Regions from separate parts of the Homo sapiens genome. Here region 2 is linked to region 1. A link means that fine-mapping ties the variant in region 1 to the expression of a gene that starts in the linked region. Tissue or cell type: whole blood. Region 1 holds a variant in brackets; the other region holds the start of a gene. All regions are shown on one strand. Distances are from middle to middle.

Region 1 (11,138 bases):
ACACAGGTGCTCAGTAAATGGAAGTCTTCAGTTCTCTCCCCTGGGTTGTCTGGCTTTGCCTCTTGCTAATTCCTAGCTTTCTCCTACAGGTTCAAAACTGTCAGTGATGGCTGTGACAGGAGCCAGGAGTCCTATTGTCTAGAAAACTCAGGACCCCCTGCCCTGCCTATACACAGCCATTCTCCATTCAGTTTCCCCCATCCCCTTCTTTTCCCTTGGAAATGTCATATTTCATCCTATGAACACATGGTTGCCAACACAGTCCCCCAGCCTGGATCACCTTTCTTTTCCTCTCTGCTCCTCTGCACAGTCCCATTGGTCACCCCGCACCCTAGTGTTTCTGGCTATGTTTCTGACACTTGAGGATTCTAAGCTGTGAGAGTCAGAGGCACTTACCTCTGAATCCCCACAAAGCCCTCAGCACAATGCCTGGCACATAGCAGGCACTCAACAAATATTTACTGAGTGCTTGCTAGGTGCCAAGCACTGATCTGGGTGCTGCAGATACAGAGGTGAGCAAGGCAAGCAGGGGCCCTGCACCAAGGAGCTCCCTCCCTAACTGGGAAGGACATGGCAATGACATCAACACATTTCAAAAAGGAAAGAAATAAAACAGAAAAAAGGGAAAGTGGCTGAGGTGGAACAGGGGTTGGCCCTGGATTGGGTGGTCTGGGTAGGTCTCATCAAGGAAGTGGCATGTGAGCTGAGTGGGATGATGAGAAGGAGCCAGCCATGGGAAGAGGCAGAGGAAAGCATTCCAGACAGAGGGGAGAGCATGCTGGAAGTGTCTGGGAAACAGAAAGAAGGCTGGGGTGCTGAGGCACTGCAAGAAGGAGAAAGAGATGGCTGTGAGGCTGGCTGGGGCGGGCCACATGGGGCCAAAGACCACAGTGAGGGGGTGGGGAGCCCCCCAAGGGCTTTAAGCAAGAGTGACATTACCTGACATGGGTTTTCTCTAGCTGACACTAGGGACAGAAGGGGAAGCAGGAAGACCAAAGAGGAGGCTGTGGTGCTGAGAGGAAAGATGACACTAGTTTGGGCCAGACAGGCAATAGTGGAGGAGGGTGTGCCACTGCCCACTGCCATTCCAGCCTGGGCGACAGAGACCCTGTCTCCAAAAAAAAAAAACTAGAATGGTGGGGTGCGATGGCTTACGCCTGTAATCCCAGCACTTTGGGAGGTCGAAGCGGGCAGATCACTTGAGGTCAGGAGTTCAAGACTAGCCTGACCAATGTGGTGAAACCCCCGTCTCTACTAAAAATACAAAAATTAGCCGGGCGTGGTGGCGGGCGCCTGTAATCCCAGCTGCTCAGGAGGCTGAAGCTGGAGAATCGCTTGAACCCGGGAGGAGGAGGTTGCAGTGAGCCGAGACAGCGCCATTGCACTCCAGCCTGGGTGTCACAGTGAGACTCCATCTCAAAAAAAAAAAAAAAAAAAAAAAGACTAGAAAGGTGGGTGACCTTGGATTCATGATACTACTGCTGGAACTCATTTTCCTCTGGAGATAACGAGGGTAGTGACCGATTCTAGTTTTATGTAATTGTTTAGGGGAGTTTTCTTAAGCAATGCCCGTCAAGTGCTTGGCATATGAACCCTTAGCTGTTAGTATCTCTGTGTTAGGCCTATCGACTTTGGTAGGGGTGATGGGGCAGGCGGTGCAGCTGGAGAGGCCCGATCACGAAGGGCCCTAAATGTCAGAGCACAGAGCGTGGGCTGAATCCTGTGCCCCGGAGAGCGGTGGGAAGGATTCGTAGAGGGGAATGTGCTGCTTAGACATGCATTTTGGAAGCCCCCTTCCCTGCAGAGAATCCAGGACTGGTCCAGTAGAGGAGACGGGGAGATGGGGTAGGGTGTCCGCTCACTTTCTAGCAGGTCCACCTCAAAGTCCTTGGTGGGCAGACGCACGGAGTTGAAGCCCCAGGTGGGGATGTGGCCTTCCAGCGGTGGCTTCCCCGACAACACGCGCAGGAACGTGCTCTTGCCTGCGCCATCCAGCCCCAGCACCAGCACCTCGCGCTGTTCCAGCTCCTCCAGCGCCGGCTCCTCGTCCTCCTCGTCCTCGGGCTGCGGGGAAGCGGAGGTAAGGTTGCGGCTGGCGGCCTCCCGAAGGACCTTTCCCGAGGGAAGACCGAAGGCACCAGAGGGCCCAGGCCCGCCTTCCACCCGTCCTGGGACAGGCAGGCATGGTCTGGATGAGTGGGACGAACGCCGCCTTTGCAGTCCTGAATTCCAAACCCTTGGCGAATTCCTTAAACGCTCGCGCGCCCCGCTTCCTCCACCGGTCTCGGAGTCCCGACCGCAGGCGGGAGGGGATGGGGTTTCTCCCGACATCCCCACCCCCGGGCGGGGTGCACTGCGCAGGCGCCGGAGGGGCGCGAGCCGACCCGGCTGGGCCCCGGGATGCTCCCGAGCCGCGCCCTCCAAACTCCGGCCCCCGCTGGAACACCCGAGCCTCATGGCGTGGAGCGACGGCGTGGCGCCAAGGCGCCGCACGCACCCAAGCACACCCACCCGTTCCTCGGTTCCCGGGCTCTGACCGCCCACCCGCGCGGGGCCTGTGCGCTGCGGCTGCCAAGCCCTCGACCCCCCAAGCTCCCGGCACCAGCAGGGCCGTTCCGTGGTCACACCCCTTGGCCACATGCGCGGAGTCGCAGCCCAGCCTGCCCGCCCTTCCGCAGGCCTCGGCCCGGCACTCACGTCCCACTCGTCCCACTCGGGGAGGCGGGCAGCCTCCGCGCCCCACCAGGCCTCTCCCCGGTCCCAGCGCCGCTCTCGGCCGCGGCCGAAGTAGGTCTTCCAGAGGATGAAGAGCACCGAGCCCAGCACCGCCGCGGCGCCGCCCAGCGCCAGCACCAAGGGGCCCAGCGGCCGCGGCGCCATCGGGCCGGGCGAGGGACGCAGGTGCGGGTTGCACAGGCCGAGCCCACTCGCCCGCCGAAGATGGCCCCGCTGCGACTGCTGCGGCCGCGCCCACCCACCCAGACCCAGTCCCGCACTACAAGCCCCACAATGCACTGCCGCTGTCACGGCAGGCCGCCCGGGACCCGGCGGCGTGGGTGGTGGGGCGCTGGCCGGCGCGCGGGGACCTCCGGTCCCCCTGCCAGGTGCAGGGTGGAGGAAGGAGAGGCTGTGCCTGGGGAGGACGGGAGACGGCGGTGCTTGCTAGCATCCACCAGGGGTTAGCTCACGGCTTTTCTCCGTTACCCCTTACAATGATACCACGCAGAAGGGAAAACCGAGGCCCAGGAGTTAAGTAACCCGCCCAACGCCGCATCGTAGTGCTTTGGTGTAGCCTGCGTTCAAACCCAAGCGATCTGTCTCCCGGTCATCCCTCAAGACCTCGGGAGGAAATTGAAGCAAGACGCCCGATATCACACGGCAGTGGGGTGGCAGAGGCAGGAATAGAACCCAGGTCCGTGGCTCCCCGCCACCTCTAGCCTTCTTTCGCTGCCTCCCGGACCACAGGGGTTTTGCTGGGGTCCTGGTCAGGCTGAATTAAGCAGTGTCAGGACTTCAGAATGTTTAGGGCTGACTGCCTTGTCCTAGGTACCCCCAGTGACTGCCAAGGCTTCCACGTGTGTAGCACGAGGAGGAAGAACAGGAGAAACGACCTGAGTACAGCAGTCGGGTTCTTTTGGCTCTCCAGAGGGGTGACGCCATGTACGGCTGGCTGTAGGGTACATGGGTCGAGAGACCGCCTGTGGCTCTCAGGGCCCAGCAGGGCTACCTCTTCCCCTTTATATTGTCTCAACTCTTCACCTCCTTTTAGTTTGCGATTCCTCTGTACCCCTGGCTCTGGGTCCCAGCCCCTATTCCTTCTGATTTGTCCCCCTTTCCCTTTGACTACATATATATGCTCCTCTCCTCCCAGATAGTGATGTTTTAGCTACATCTTATTTCTTCCGGCATTGATTCTTTTGAAAAATTTATTTCTGGCCGGGTGTGGTGGCTCATGCCTGTAATCCCAGCACTTTGGGAGGCCGAGGCAGGCGGATCACCTGAGGTCAGGAGTTCGAGAATAGCCTGCCTAACATGGTGAAACCCCATCTCTACAAAAATTAGCCGGGCGTGGTGGCACGTGCCTGTAATCCCACCTACTCAGGAGGCTAAGGCAGGAGAATCGCTTGAACCCAGGAGGAGGAGGTTGCAGTGTGCTGAGATTGCGCCACTGCCCTCCAGCCTGGGTGACAGAGCAAGAATCCGTCTCAAAAAAAAAAAAAAAGAAAAAAAAATTAGCTCCTCCTCAAAAATACACCCACTTAGAGGGGAAAACCCACAAAATTGCTAAGATTAAAAGTTTGGCTGGTGCGGTGGCTCACGCCTGTGATCCCAGCACTTTGGGAGGCCGAGGCAGCCGGCCGGATCACGAGGTCAGGAGATCGAGACCATCCTGGCTAACACGGTGAAACCCCATCTCTACTGAAAATCCAAAAAATTAGCCGGGCGTGGAGCCGGGCGTGGTGGCAGGCGCCTGTAGTCCCAGCTACTTGGTAGACTGAGGCAGGAGAATCGCTTGAAACTGGGAGGCAGAGGTTACTGTGAGCCGAGATTGCGCCACTGCATTCCAGCCTGGGCAACAGAGCGAGACCTTGTCTCAAAAAAAAAAAAAAAAAAAATGTTTACAGTCTATTATTTGTGGAAAAGAAATAGGTGCTCTCACATAGGTGCTATGCACCAAGACCATGACAGCTTCAGACATTGGTACCACAAATATCAGGGATAAAGTTTTTTTTTTTTTTGAGATGGAGTCTCACTCTGTAGCCCAGGCTGGAGTGCAGTAGTGTGATCTCAGGCCTCCCAAAGTGCTGGGATTACAGGCATGAGCCACCACACCCAGCCAGAAATAAATTTTTCAAAAGAATCAATGCCGGAAGAAATAAGATGTAGCTAAAACATCACTATCTGGGAGGAGAGGAGCATATATATGTAGTCAAAGGGAAAGGGGGACAAATCAGAAGGAATAGGGGCTGGGACCCAGAGCCAGGGGTACAGAGGAATCGCGAACTAAAAGGAGGTGAAGAGTTGAGACAATATAAAGGGAAAGAGGTAGCCCTGCTGGGCCCTGAGAGCCACAGGCGGTCTCTCAACCCATGTACCCTACAGCCAGCCGTACATGGCGTCACCCCTCTGGAGAGCCAAAAGAACCCGACTGCTGTACTCAGGTCGTTTCTCCTGTTCTTCCTCCTCGTGCTACACACGTGGAAGCCTTGGCAGTCACTGGGGGTACCTAGGACAAGGCAGACTGCAGCCTCCGTCTCCCAGGTTCAAGAGATTCTCCTGCCTCAGTCTCCAGAATAGCTGGGATTACAGGCACCTGTCACTACGCCTGGCTGATTTTTGTATTTTAGTAGAGACGGGGTTTCGCCGTGTTGGCCAGGATGGTCTCGAACGCCTCAGCCTCTGAAAGTGTTGGGATTACAGGCCTGAACCACCGTGCCCAGCCAGAAAAAGTTGTTTTAATCAAATAGTAACTTCCAGGAAAGTCTTAAGTTTTCATGTATTTGTGGCTAAGAAATAAATGAGATGATCCCACCTTATGATCTACATAAGGGTGCAAAGTGCTATTTCTTCCTTTTCTGACTGAGAGGTGATATACATCCCTTCCTGTGGTGGATAAAGAGCAAGGTGCCAGCTTTGCTTCCACAGAGGTTAAAAAATATGGCATATTTTAAAAGCTCCAAATTAACAAAGGAACACCTTTAACACACACACGCACGCACACATATACACACAATTATACTGCAATGTAATTGTGCTGTTGATAAGCTAATTATAGAATTCATCAAAGACTTTAATTCTTAGTGCACTCAAGCACCCTGGTCTGGAAACAGCGCTTAAGTTTCAAGTCGCATGAGCAAGGCCTCTCAGTTCTGCCAGTACGGCTGGAAGCCTCAAATGCTGAAATCTAAATGTGACATTCACCCTGCACCACCAATCATAGCTCTCCTGAGATGAGTTTTGATGGCGAGCTTTGGACTGGGGTAGAAACGTGGATAGATTTTTGCAAATTCTGCTGTAACTTCGTTGCTTCGCCTTCTTTGTGAACCCTTCAGGGATAAGAGAAGTCTTCCTTCAGGATGTGACTGACACCTCAGCTGGCGCCTCTAAGCCTCACTCTCCTTTATGTAAAAGAGAAATGATATTAGGATCGCCTTCCCTAGGGGAGGCAGGTGAGGTCGGTTCCCTTTTTTGGTTCAGCTACTAGTACGAACCCTGCCTAACCCCGCTGTTTTGGGAGACAGTCCGTGCTCACTGCACCGCTTGCTAATCGAAGTGACTTCTCATCTCTCCCAGTCTCAGCTTCACCTCCGTGAAGTGGGAAAAACAGGATGACAAGTGCTCGCACTTGGCAGCCCTTTTTGAGCCTTGAGGGCTTGGGTTTGTGGGTGTCATTTTACTATGCTACCTCCGTCTTCCCTTAGCTTGTCACGGACCCAGGCACAGCACACGCGCTGAGGAAGTGGTGGTGAAGTGTGGCGTTTCCTCTCGGG[G/A]CTGGCGGATTCCACACTCGGAGCTGCGGCTCCACAACTCGCTGGGCGGCGAAGGGCATGGGGAGGGGGCGGGTCTCGCGATCGTGGACAACAACTCCCAGCATGCCCTGTGCTCCGCTGGGCCAAGTCTCGCGCGAGATCCCGCGGTCTCCGGAGGCTTTATCTGCAGTGCTGCCTGCCCGCTGGGTGGTACTGCTACCTAGTGGGTCTTGGGGACCTTCGAAATCGCCGCCGCTCTCACAATGGCTTGGGTCCAGACTGCGCCACAGCCTCTCGGGAGACGTGGGCCCTCGGAACCTTTTTAGTGCCGGACTCCGGGCCGCAGGCAGTCCCGCGGCAGCAGGATCACAGGTGAACAGATGGCGGGCCTGGGCCCTCCCTTGGGGCTGCGTTCTCTGGCGATCAGGAGGGGCGCTTCCGGCGAGGCCCGATCTCGGGGCCCCTCCAAGCCACTCCCCTCTCCCCGCACCTCTTAACCCTTCATCCCGGCTTCGAGCTCGGCTGGGTCGCCTCTTGCCTCCCTGGCTCCGCTCTCTGGGGTCTCCGTAATGGGGCTTCTCTCCGGGAATGCCCTGCAGCTCCCGTACGGGCTTCCCCTCCGCTTCGTGGGACCAGCCCAGCCCGAGCCCCCGCGGCTTGTCCTCAACCTCATCTCCCCACACCCCGCCTTCGGCTAGGGTCCTGGCCCTAATCTTAGCCTGGAGGGGTGGGTGAAGCAGCCGGCCTTTCGTATCCTGGCGGCACCGTCTTGTATATTGTGAAGGAGAGGCAGAGGGACGGTGAGCTGGGGGGTGGGGGCACAGGGAAAGGGAAAGGGGAAGGGGACGTGTCTGGGGCGGGAATGCTCCCTGGACTGGGAGGATGGCTGAATTCGGCCTTTGCGATGCTCGTTAGTGAAGAACTATCAATAACTTGTTTGCTCTGTCTGAGTCCTATCGGGATAGAGGGACGGTGTAGCAAGCTGAAAAACAAGAGTAACTTTCTCAGGCCCTCGTTTTAACTCCCCTGTAAACTGGGCATGAAACTACCTACCTTGCGCACGGACCACTTATCTGTGACCGTGGACAAATTTACTTAACTCCTCTGATTTTTAGTTTCCTTCTCTTTATTATTATTTTTAACATTTTTTTAATTTTTTTAATTTTTATTTTTGAGACCGAGTCTCACTCCGTCGCCCAGGCTGGAGTACAGTGGCTCGATCTCGGCTCACTGCAACCTCCGCCTCCCGGGTTCAAGCTATTCTCCTGCCTCAGCCTCCCGAGTAGCTGGGATTACAGGCGCCCGCCACCATGCCCGGCTAATTTTTGTATTTTTAGTAGAGATGGGGTTTCACCATGTTGGCCAGGCTAGTCTCGAACTCCTGACCTCAAGTGATCTGCCCGCCTGGGTCTCGCAAAATGCTGGGATTACAGGCGTGAGCCACCGCACCCGGCCAGTTTCCTTCTCTTTAAATTTGGGATAGCCTTTCTGTAAGAGATAGCTTAAAAAAAAAACTGGGGTCGGGCGCGGTGGCTCACGCTTGTAATCCTAGCACTTTGGGAGGCCGAGGTGGGCGGATCGCAAGGTCAGGAGATCAAGACCATCCTGGCTAGTGCGGTGAAACCCCATCTCTACTAAAAATACAAAAAATTAGCCAGGCGTGGTGGCAGACGCCTGTAGTCCCAGCTACTTGGGAGGCTAAGGCAGGAGAATGGCGTGAACCCGGGAGGTGGAGCTTGCAGTGAGCCAAGATCGCGCCACTGCACTCCAGCCTGGGCGACAGAGTGAGACTCCGTCTCAAAAAAAAAAAAAAAAAAAAATTGGGATTGGGATAAATAATATCTGCTTTGCCATCTTGCTGCAAGGATTAAAAGACAAGATAAACGCTGTAAATAGTTTATAGTGTTAGCTATAAAGAACAAATTTCCCTACTGTAGTATCTAGCCGCTTGCTGTGAGTTAAGAAAATGAAATGAGCAAGGTTGTTGTGGGGAATAAACAAGTGTTTGGCAGACTCTGACGGGCTGTTCCAATGCTGGCTGTTTGTTGTTATTAGAACCTCTGGATGGACTCTTCCTGGGAAGCTTTGCTACTTTGCAGCAGCTGGACCATGTTCCTCATTAACATCTGTCTGTCCGCTTAGTCATCACATCATTTCACTGTGGTAAGGTGACTTTTTCACCATGTATGGCATCTTAGCTCTGTCATCTCACAGGTGTTAAGATCAGCCACAGGTGTGGTGAGACGTTTGACTTTATCCTTCTTTTTTCATTGGCATGTTTGTCACCCACTGGCTCTTGCATGTGTGTTTCAACCTTGTAAACAAGCCGTTCAATTCTGTGTGCCTGCCAGAAGAACAGCATTGGTGCTGCTCACCATAAGAAAATGCCCTTTGTTATTTTATTAGGTGGCAGGGACTCAGCTCGGAATTCTGTATAGAAAAAGCACCTGGATCCCAGTCTTTCAATGGCTTCAAGACAACCAGAAGTGCCTGGTAAACTTAATTCTTTTTGGTAAAATCATGTTTTGCCCTTATTAATGTTTTAAGCTAGACAGAAACCATTTTATCGGAACTATATATTAATGGTTAATCTCTGCTACCAAGCGAGTATTTAGATTTACTAGATTGGCTTATTTTATTTTATTTTATTTTTTTGAGATGGAGTCTTGCTCTGTTGCCCAGGCTGGAGTGCAGCGGCACAATCTCGGCTCACTGCTACCTCCGCTTCCTGGGTTCAAGCCATTCTCCTGCCTCAGCCTCCCCAGTAGCTGGGATTACAGGTGCCCGCCACCACACCCAGCTAATTTTTGTATTTTTTGTAGAGACGGGGTTTCACCATATTGGCCAGGCTGGTCTGGAACTCCTGACCTTTTTTTTTTTTTTTTTTTTTGAGACAGAGTCTTGCTCTGTCGCCCAGGCTGGAGTGCAGTGGCGCGATCTCAGCTCACTGCAAGCTCCGCCTCCCGGGTTCACACCATTCTCCTGCCTCAGCCTCCCGAGTAGCTGGGACTACAGGCGCCCACCACCATGCCCAGCTAATTTTTTGTATTTTTAGTAGAGACGAGGTTTCACCGTGTTAGCCAGGATGGTCTCGATTTCTTGACCTTGTGATCCGCCCGCCTCGGCCTCCCAAGGTAATGGGATTACAGGCGTGAGCCACCGTGCCCGGCGGAACTCCTGACCTTGTGATCTGCCTGCCTCGGCCTCCCAAAGTGTTGGGATTACAGGTGTGAGCCACCACGCCCAGCCAGTTTTATTTTATTTTTGAGTCTCACTCTGCTGCCCAGGCTAGAATACAGTGGTGTGATCTCAGCTCACTGCAACCTCCGCCTCCTGGGCTCAAGTGATTCTCCTGCCTCAGCCTCGAGTAGCTGGGATTACAGCTGCCTGCCACCACGCCCGGCTAATTTTTGTATTTTTAATAGAGACAGGGTTTCTCCATGTTGGCCAGGCTGGTCTCAAACTCCTGACCTCAGGTGATCCTTCCACCTTGGCCTCCCAAAGTGCTGGGATTACAGGTGTGAGCCACCACGCCTAGCCTTAGATTGGCATCATTTAAATATTTTATTAGCCGCTCAGCCATAGTATGAAACTTTAACTTAAAGAGAATAGTCACTTCATTTAAGGGTATTATGACAAGTTTGTTACTTTCCTAGTTATCAAATAATAATTCAGAATAAGTTGTGCAGTTCTTGTAGTATGTACCAAAGTGATTAAACTCACCTTTTTGGGGGTGATGGGGAGGTGGGATGGAAGTCTTGGTAAAAAGGCACCAGCCTGCTTAAATGGCAGATTGAACTTAATCATGAAAATGCTCACAGCAACCCTTAATGAGTCAAGTTCTGGGTTATTGACACCATTGATGACTACTTGAATTGTTTTATGAGAAAGGAAAGTGATTTTTAATTACATCTGAATCGCTTAATTTCTGATTCTCGGTAAAGTATGATGATGAAGAAAGATGATGGTTCCTATCTCTCGGGGTTGTGAAGATTAAACAAAATATGTAAAAACAGGAGTTAAAAATCAGTGATAAATATGTATTTACTGCCCAGAATGCATTTGGTCTGTCTTTATATGAACATATTTTCCAGTAAATACTAGCTGACTTTATTTGTTTTAGGATGGCTGTTCAGTGGGAGTCTTTAAGATGTTTTTGAAATTGCTCCCCAAGTCTCCCGTATTCCCCAATATAGATCCATCTCTAGTCTTAACATCATCAGCTCCGTTTTAGTTTGTCTTTCATTGTTGCTGTGATTACCACAAACTCCGTGTAGCCGTCGCGAGCCATAGGATTGTGCCCATTCAGTGAATGCTTTGTAGTGTGTTGCATGCAGAGTGTGTGCACCGGCTCAGGTCTGTGTTCCAGTTCCCAGCACACTCTTTCAAGCTAGGTGATATTGGGCAAGTTGATTGTGAAAATGGAAAATTTGAAAATGGGAAGAATATCTGCTTCATGAGGATTAGATAAGATGAGGGATGTAATTGTCTAGCAAGGAGGAAGACTTAGTAATTATTATTTGCTTGTGTGTGTGTTTGAGATGTAATGCACATATCATAAAATTCACCCACTGAAAGTGAACAATGTCGTGATTTTTAGTATATTCACAGGGTTGTGCAAACAACACTACGATCAATTGCAGCACATTTTCTTTTCTTTTCTTTTTT
Region 2 (8,000 bases), 27 kb before region 1:
GTTAGATGGTTAGTCAGTGTCCTACTTCTGCCAAGTTTTTGGAAATGGTGAAATAGCTAAGGTCCTGCATTAGGTCGTCCTAGGACCTCCAAGGGTCTTTAGGTGTCAGGAACCTCAGGTTGGGAACTCCCGATGGGGAAGTAATGAACAGAGGGTGCCTAGGCTGGGAAGACTTTCTGAGGAGGTGAGGCCCGCACTGAGACCTGAATGACAAGAAGCAGCAAGCCAGGAACAGGTCTGGGAGAAGCGTGTTCCAGGAAGAGGTGATAGCAAGTGCCAAGGTCCTGAGGCAGGACCAAGCTAGGCTTCCTCCTGCGCCAAGGCTGCCCTCCTCTGAAGTCAGGGGGGCACAAGGCTGGGGAGGACACAGTGCCCCAGAGTAGGCTGGGCAAAGCAGCCTTGCTCAAGGGCAAGGCTGGGGGAAAGCAGACTGCTATAAAAGCCCGTCCTATCTCCACCCGCAGGGCATCCGAGGAGGCTTTCGTGAAGGAATCCAAGGAGGAGACCCCAGGCACAGAGTGGGAGAAGGTGGCCCAGCTATGTGACTTCAACCCCAAGAGCAGCAAGCAGTGCAAAGATGTGTCCCGCCTGCGCTCGGTGCTCATGTCCCTGAAGCAGACGCCACTGTCCCGCTAGGTGCCTGCTAGGTGCATGGCCACAGAGCATGGGCTGGGCCTGGGCACAGGAGGAGCAGCTGCTTTGGTCGGGGTGGAGACTCGCAGCAGCTGCTACCCACAGCCTATTCCACTCCTCCCCATCTCCAGGCGCTGGGAGGGGGGCCCTCACCCCATCACGCCTCGCTCCCTCCTGGCCCTCTGGTCCAGCCCCTCACGCCTCCTCTCAGTCTACTCAATTGTGACTGTCCCTCCTGATGTATTTTTTTTCTTGGCTTAAAGGGTGTGTTGTTGACTCTTTTTACACTTATTTATTATCATTCTCACTTCTCTGGAAGCCACAACTGGTGTCAGGGCTCGGTTTGTGCTTAGAACTTTCCCAGCTTCATGACCTTGAGAGAAGGGAGAATGTTCCCCCATTTCCCAGCCAAGTGGGAGCCCCAAGCTCTCCATGTCTGTTGCCTCCACCTCCAGGAGGAAAGACAGCCTCTCGCAGAATGCTTTTGTAACCTCGATCCTTTAACAAGTCTGTGAGGTAAATTCTGTTATTCTCACCATATAACCAAGGACACCAAGGTTCCCAGAGGGGAAGTGGCTTGTAGTGGGAGGGAAAAGCGAGACCAGAGGTTCCTGGTGGTAGCTTCCTCCTAAGCCTGGGTAAGAGCCCTGAAGACCCATGAGACTCCCCTCCTTAGGGTTGGCTGGGACCTTCTGGATGTGGAGGGTCCACTGCCCTGTGTATTTCGCTTCCTCCTTCAACTGGGCTCATCTTGGATTTTGGATAAACAACCAGTGATCACACCTTCTTCCCCTTCAGCAGAGTTTGCAAACAGGACGTTCATGACCTGCATGATGTTTAAAAAGATTTGAGTAATTGCCAGTAAATATTAGCTTCCTAGGGCTTCTGTAAGAAGGTACATGAACTAGCTGGCTTAGAACAGAAATTTATTGTCTCATAGTTCTTGAGGCCAGAAATCTGAAATCAAGCTGTGGCAGAGCCATGCTCCCTCTGAAGGAGCTGGGGAAGGGTCTGTTCCACCTGCTTCTGGCTTCTGGTAGCCTCAGGCATCCCTTAGCTGGCAGACGCATCACCCCAATCCTGCCCCCATCAGGTGGCTGTTTGCACATTGCCTTCTAGGTATGTCTGTCTTTGTGGCCAAATCTTCGTTTTCTGTTTTTTTTCTCAAACAGGGTCTCGCTTTATCACTGAGGCTGGAGTGCAGTGGTGCAATCTCAGCTCACTGCAGCCTCAACTTCCTTGGGTCAGGCAATCCTTCCACCTCAGCCTCTCAGGTAGCTGGGACTACAGGCACGTGCCACCACATTTGGCTAATCTTTGTATTTTTAGTAGAGACGGGGCTTTGCCATGTCACCCAGGCTGGGCAAACTCCTGGGCTCAAGCAATTTATCCACTTTGGCCTCCCAAAGTGCTGGGATTACAGGGATGAACCATAGCACCCAGCCTAAGGTCAAATTCTAAGGCACTAGAAGGACTTCAACATTTTTGGAGGGGGACACCATGACACCAACACTTACAAACAGTGGTCATCACTCCATGTCCTTGTCTTGTATCTGGATGCCAAGGGTCACCACAGTGCACTGCTCTACATCTATCATCTCTGCCTCAAAGCTGAGAGAACATGGTGGAGGCAAGCAACTTAGCTGGCCCTAGTACAGCCCTCCACTGAGATCTAGACTGTTGGGGGGTTCAAGAAGGGGTGTGTCTTCACTCCCTTTTTCCTTCTGCCAGCTTGAAGCTGGTGTTGAAAACAGTACAATCACTCGGGAAGAGCGCAGGTCCTCAAATCCAACATTTGAGGAGCGCTGACCACAGACCAGGAATACTTGTTTGAAACTACATGAAGGAGGAACTAACAGGTCACCTCTCTTCTAGAGTGTGCTCAGGTCCTCAGCCTCCTCTTCCAGAACCCTCAAACACTATGTACACAAATCTCTGGAGAGCTTCGGGACTGTGTTCTTCCCACTGTACCAGACTGCTTCTCTGAGCCTGTTTCCTCTTCTATACTGTGTCAAGAACCAGATGGTCTAGGCTGGGCGTGGTGGCTCACGTCTGTAATCCCAGCACTTTGGGAGGCCGAGGTTGGGGGATTACCTGAGGTCAGGAGTTCAAGACCAGCCTGGCCAACATGGTGAAACCATGTTGTTTTAGTATTCTACTAAAAATACGAAATACAAAAATTAGCCGGGCGTGGTGGCACACACCTGTAATCCCAGCTACTCGGGAGGCTGAGGCAGGAAAATTGCTTGAGCCCGGGAGGCGGAGGTTGCAGTGAGCCGAGATTCTGCCACTGCACTCCAGCCTGGCTGACACAGTGAGACTCGTCTCAAAAAAAGAACTAGATGGTCTAGATCAGTGGAGCCCCATAGACTCTAGGGAGGTGGGAGCAGGGTGAGGAGGTTATGCGGAGTGGAGGGCAGAACCCTCTGCCTCTGACCCGACTATGGGAGGCCTCATCTGAAGGAAGGTTGTCCTACTGAAAGTCTGAAAAACTGCTGGCTAGACCAGTATTTTTCAAATGGCATTACTCTAGGCCCACTGAACTAGAATCTCAAGGAGTGACCTTGAGATTCTTTTTTTTTTTTTTTTTTTTTGAGATGGAGTTTTGCTCTTGTTGCCCAGGCTGAAGTGCAATGGCGCGATCTCAGCTCACCACAACCTCCGCCTCCCGGGTTCAAGTGATTCTCCTGCCTCAGCCTCGCGAGTAGCTGGGATTACAGGCACGCAACACCACGCCCAGCTAATTTTGTATTTTTAGTAGAGATGGGGTTTCTCCATGTTGGTCAGGCTGGTCTTGAACTCTTGACCTCAGGTGATCCGCTCGCTTCGGCCTCCCAGAGTGCTGGGATTACAGGTGTGAGCCACTGCGCCTGGCCAAATCTCTGCTTTCAAAGTGCCCTGGGTGGCTGTTACTAGGAAAGTTCGGGAATCACTAGACTACACGATTTCTAAGCACCACTCCAAAGTCCGTTTCCTCCAAAATCAAAGACCAAAAACCATGGGGATGATACTGAATTAAATACAAGTGGATTTTTAGAGTTTATTAAGCAGGGGAGTGGAGGGGAGATGTGGCACAAATAGAAGTATGTAACATTCAAACAACAGCATCTAGGATTTTTGAAAAAACTTTCGGTTACAGTTACACAAAGGGTCACTTCCTCCCCAGCGACACATGGGCCTCTCAAAGGAGAGGAGGGAGTAAGTCCCACGGTAGGGCCAGTGGTTGCTCCCTGGGTTTTGGAATCATTTCTGCGGAGCTTTCAAGGCCAGACCCTGGGCTTAGGGTCGAGACTTCATAGCAGTGACAGCCAGACCCAGCAAGATGGCTGCGACCGTGAAACCCTGGGCGGCGATCCGGGTGCGCATCATGAGCTGAGAGCGCTGGCTGTTGCCCCGGTGGAAGGAGTAGAGGCCGTAGGTGAGGGCGGCCGCCGTGGCCAGGCAACCTGAGGAGGGGACAAAGCAACTGGGAAACAGCAGGTCGGGCCCCGCAGGTCATTCCCCGCTTTGGGTCTCGCTTCCCCAAAGCCAAGATCTCTGGATCACAGCGGAGGGAGGGCGGCGAGGGTAGGTCGAGTCGAGGTCTTCCTAGTTACAGAGTCCTCCCAATCTTAGGCCCCAAATCCCGCCCCCTAAACCCGCTGCTCCCGCTCCAATCAGTTTCGCCCCTCACCGCCCCGCCCCCTCGTCTCTTCTCTAGTCCGCTCTCCTTCCGCTCCCCGCTAGCGCTCTGGTCCTTCTCTACTTCCTTCCCTCCGACATCACTGTCCTCTCCTTGTGCAGTTCCTACCGCACCCACTTACCTATGGGTACCACCGGGTTCTCGCGGGTCTTGCGAACGAACTTTTCCTTGAAACTCTCTGGATTCCTGTAAACAGTGGGGCTCAGCCCCTCAATGACTGGAGGCTTCGATGGTTCAAAGGGGACCTCCGGAATCACAGGGCCGGGAGTCGCCATGTCCGGGCCACAGCAGCAGGAGAAAATCGGGACTCCGACCTCAGCCTCCCGGTGAAGGTCATGAAAGGGGCGGGGAAACGAATAAATTGAGCCTTGTACGCAGGCGCAAATGCTCGTTGCATCCTGGGAGTCGTAGTGCTCAGCACGGTAGTGCTACAAAAGGACTACATTTCCCCAAATGCCCGCAAAGCCTTGTGCACGCCTTCCGGAAGGAGTTTGTTACACGAGGTCTGAGAGACAGAGGCAGCGTGTTTGAGCTGCTGGTGCGGTGGTCAGCGCGATGCCCAAGGCCAAGGGCAAAACCCGGAGGCAGAAGTTTGGTTACAGTGTCAACCGAAAGCGTCTGAACCGGAATGCTCGACGGAAGGCAGCGCCGCGGATCGAATGGTGAGGGGGCTGGGGTTCCGGGTGGCCGTGGGCCTCGGCCGGGACGGTCCGCGAGATGACGGATCCGCGATGTCTCTCTTTGCCGGTAGCTCCCACATCCGACATGCCTGGGACCACGCTAAATCGGTACGGCAGAACCTGGCCGAGATGGGGTTGGCTGTGGACCCCAACAGGGCGGTGCCCCTCCGTAAGAGAAAGGTACTGACATGGCAGGGTCTCGGTCCTTGTCTTCTTTACTCTTCCCCCGCCATACTGACCTAGGTGTCAGAACGTGGTACTGCCCATTCCTTCCCTCAGGCCCTTCCGAGTTTTCGACCTCCCCACAGTCAGAACGCTCAACTGACGTTGAGCAAGGGTCTCTTTACGACCTTCGTCACACTCCCTCCCCAGCACACATTCCCCATACCCCCTCTACTCAGTCTTTTTTCTCTGAAATTAACCCATTAGCATCTCAACGGTATTTTCCTTAATTTATCTTTTTCTACCCTTAACTTTCCTAATTAGTACTCCCTAAGAGTTGGAGATCTTTACTTACACCTTTTCTTTGTTATTCAATCATCCTTGGTCTGAGGCTTCCCTAGGCTTCCCTGACTGCAGTCTCCTTCCCGGGTTCAAGCTATATCCCACCTCAGCGTCCCAAATAGCTGGGATTATAAGCGTGTGCCACCATACCCGGCTGATTTTTGTGGTTTTAGTAGAGGCAGGGTTTCGCTATGTTGGCCAGGCTGGGCCTCAAGTGATCCGCCTGGCCCCCTGGAGGCTTCAACAACTATTAAAAGAATCCAGGTTCCCAAAAGAAAAGCAAGCAATTCATCTTTCTCTGCCTGCCTATCTATAAAATGGGTATAACACTCCTTGCCTTAGGGACTATCTAACTGTGTGGCTGTAGCCTCACATTTATTCAAGAAATGGTAGTGCCATTTTCCTCTGGCATGAAAGAATAAAAAGAAACTTGCCTAAGGCAATGGAACAAATTCATTCGCGAAGCCCATTCATTAGGTTAACTACTTATTGAGAACATGTCACATCCTAAGCACCCTGGGGATTTAATAGAGAACAAAACACAAAGTCCTTGTCACCAAGATTGTGTTGGGGGTAAAAGGCACAGACGGATTACTTGAGGCCAGGAGTTTGAGACCGGCCTGGCCAACATGGCAAAACCCCATCTCTACTAAAAACACAAAATTTAGCTGGGCATGGTGGCGCATGATTGTAATCCCAGCTACTTGAGAGGCTGAGGCAGGAGATCACTTGAACCCGGGGGGAGGTTGCAGTCAACCAAGATTGTGCCACTGCATTTGAACCTGGGCAACAGAATGAGACTCTGTCTCAAAAAGAAAAAGAAAAAAAAAAAGAGAGAGAGAGAGAAAAAGCCTCCAGGGCATTAGTTCTCATTGTTACCTACTTCTACCTAACCGTGGGCAGGGATTCTTATGGGTTAGTAGTTGTGTTGGGATAAGCAGGAGTCTATAACTTTCCCTCATCAAAGATCCTTCTGGTCTCAAGGGCTCTGTTCTCTGCAGGTGAAGGCCATGGAGGTGGACATAGAGGAGAGGCCTAAAGAGCTTGTACGGAAGCCCTATGTGCTGAATGGTGGGTGTGGTCCATATATTCCTTTAGGTCACTGTCCTGCACTGTGGGAAGCTGGGAAGGGCCCTAAGATGTCCTCATTTTGCAGATGGAGAAACCAAGTTTCAGAGGGGAGAAGTGAGCTGGTTCAAAGTTCACAGAGTTAGGACTGTGTCCTGGCTGGCTCATTTTTCATTGTACTGACTAAACCCTGACCTTACTGTGTGAACTAAGGTCAGAGATGTTTAGGGAGGATGTACCCAGGTGCCTGGGAGAATAGAAGAGAAACCAGTAAATCTCTGGCATGGGTATGGCTTCTCATGAATTTAAGGATGAACTGATTTTTAGGGATTCCACCATCTCAATAAATGTTCCAATGACAAAATCGATTTTATGTATATTAAGGCTATAGAGAGTGAACGCTAAAACGGAGGAGAGTAAACCCTACAGGAAAGTGGGAATACTCTAGAATTCTTCATTCATCCTTCCCCTTACCTGTCAGGGAGTTTAAGCAGCTCCCCTAAAGATAAAGGATTTGAATGGCCAGACATTTGATACAGAATTCCTTGAGTTCCTGTCTTTTATCTCAGTGGTTCTCATAAGAATTACTGCACAGGATTGTATATACCAAGCCATAGGCACTTACTGTAGTCAAAGAGGAACATTTTTAAAAATTTTAAAATGTGGTTAAAAAACACATAAAAGTTACCATCCTAACCATTTTTAAGTGCACTGTTCAGTAAAGGATATTGACTTTGTTGTGCAACAGGTCCCTAAAACCTTTTCATTTTGCAAAACTGAAACTATACCCATTAAACAACTCCCCATCTTCCTCTACCTCCAGCCCCTGGCAACCGTGTCAAAGATAATTTTGACTATATACAATATGAGGACCTAACCTCTGGATATGATTCGACTACTTCATTTCTCTGAGGTAGCTCTTTCTCTCTCTTTCTAGATGAGAAATGGAGTAGGATTTGCCTGTCTATTTTAAAAGTGAAGCCATTAGTTGGCTCCACATCCTGGCTTTTTCTCTCCCATGGAGCACTAGTAAGGTGCTGGGGCCCAGCCTCAGGCCCCAGACCCGGCAGCTCTAGATCTCATGTATTTAGACCGTCCCATTTCATGTGTTGCAATAATACATCAAGAGCTTCTCTGAGAGGCTTATAGCTGGAAGGGAGCCCTGTCCTGTGGGCAGGTATGTGCCTTCATCTCTGTCCTGAGACCTGCCACTAAGTAGAGGTTATTAGTCTGGTACCTTCCTTGTAAATCCACCTGAGGCCCGGAGAGAAGTGACTTCCCTTTCCAAAAGTTGCCATACTGGTAGATGAGTGGGTCATAGGAGACAGAGTCTGGGATCCAAGGGGCTGAAGGAGGTTCCAACAATGGATTTGGGAATGGGGAGGCAAAGACCCCCAGGTGGTTGGTGTGGTGGGTCTTGTGGCTTGGGAGTG

What was found. PIP is the estimated chance that this variant, and not a neighbour inherited with it, causes the effect.
Region 2: it holds the start of HIGD2A, and the variant in region 1 is fine-mapped to the expression of HIGD2A in whole blood (TOPMed, PIP above 0.99).

Annotation. Positions count from the first base shown.
Region 1 is chr5:176,357,306-176,368,443 of GRCh38, reverse strand. It overlaps KIAA1191, which reads left to right and starts at 6,680. Exons shown (of 9, transcript NM_020444.5): 1 at 6,680-6,842; 2 at 8,526-8,633; 3 at 8,877-8,963. The coding sequence starts at 8,936. ARL10 (ARF like GTPase 10) reads right to left here and starts at 2,957. Exons shown (of 4, transcript NM_173664.6): 1 at 2,698-2,957; 2 at 1,863-2,064. The coding sequence starts at 2,880. It overlaps MIR1271 (microRNA 1271), which reads right to left and starts at 498; the gene lies at 413-498. RefSeq lists a silencer at 2,703-3,092 and enhancers at 3,243-3,492, 6,605-6,924. The variant G/A (reference allele first, on the strand shown) is at 6,492.
Region 2 is chr5:176,385,410-176,393,409 of GRCh38, reverse strand. HIGD2A (HIG1 hypoxia inducible domain family member 2A) reads right to left here and starts at 4,659. Exons shown (of 2, transcript NM_138820.4): 1 at 4,437-4,659; 2 at 3,649-4,079. The coding sequence starts at 4,590. The coding sequence ends at 3,913. It overlaps NOP16 (NOP16 nucleolar protein), which reads left to right and starts at 4,812. Exons shown (of 5, transcript NM_016391.8): 1 at 4,812-4,977; 2 at 5,067-5,175; 3 at 6,501-6,570. The coding sequence starts at 4,871. CLTB (clathrin light chain B) reads left to right here. Exons shown (of 6, transcript NM_007097.5): 6 at 465-909. The coding sequence ends at 636. It also overlaps a transcript of ARL10 not described here. RefSeq lists enhancers at 3,457-4,140, 3,962-4,181, 4,382-4,701, 3,974-5,173, 4,825-5,508.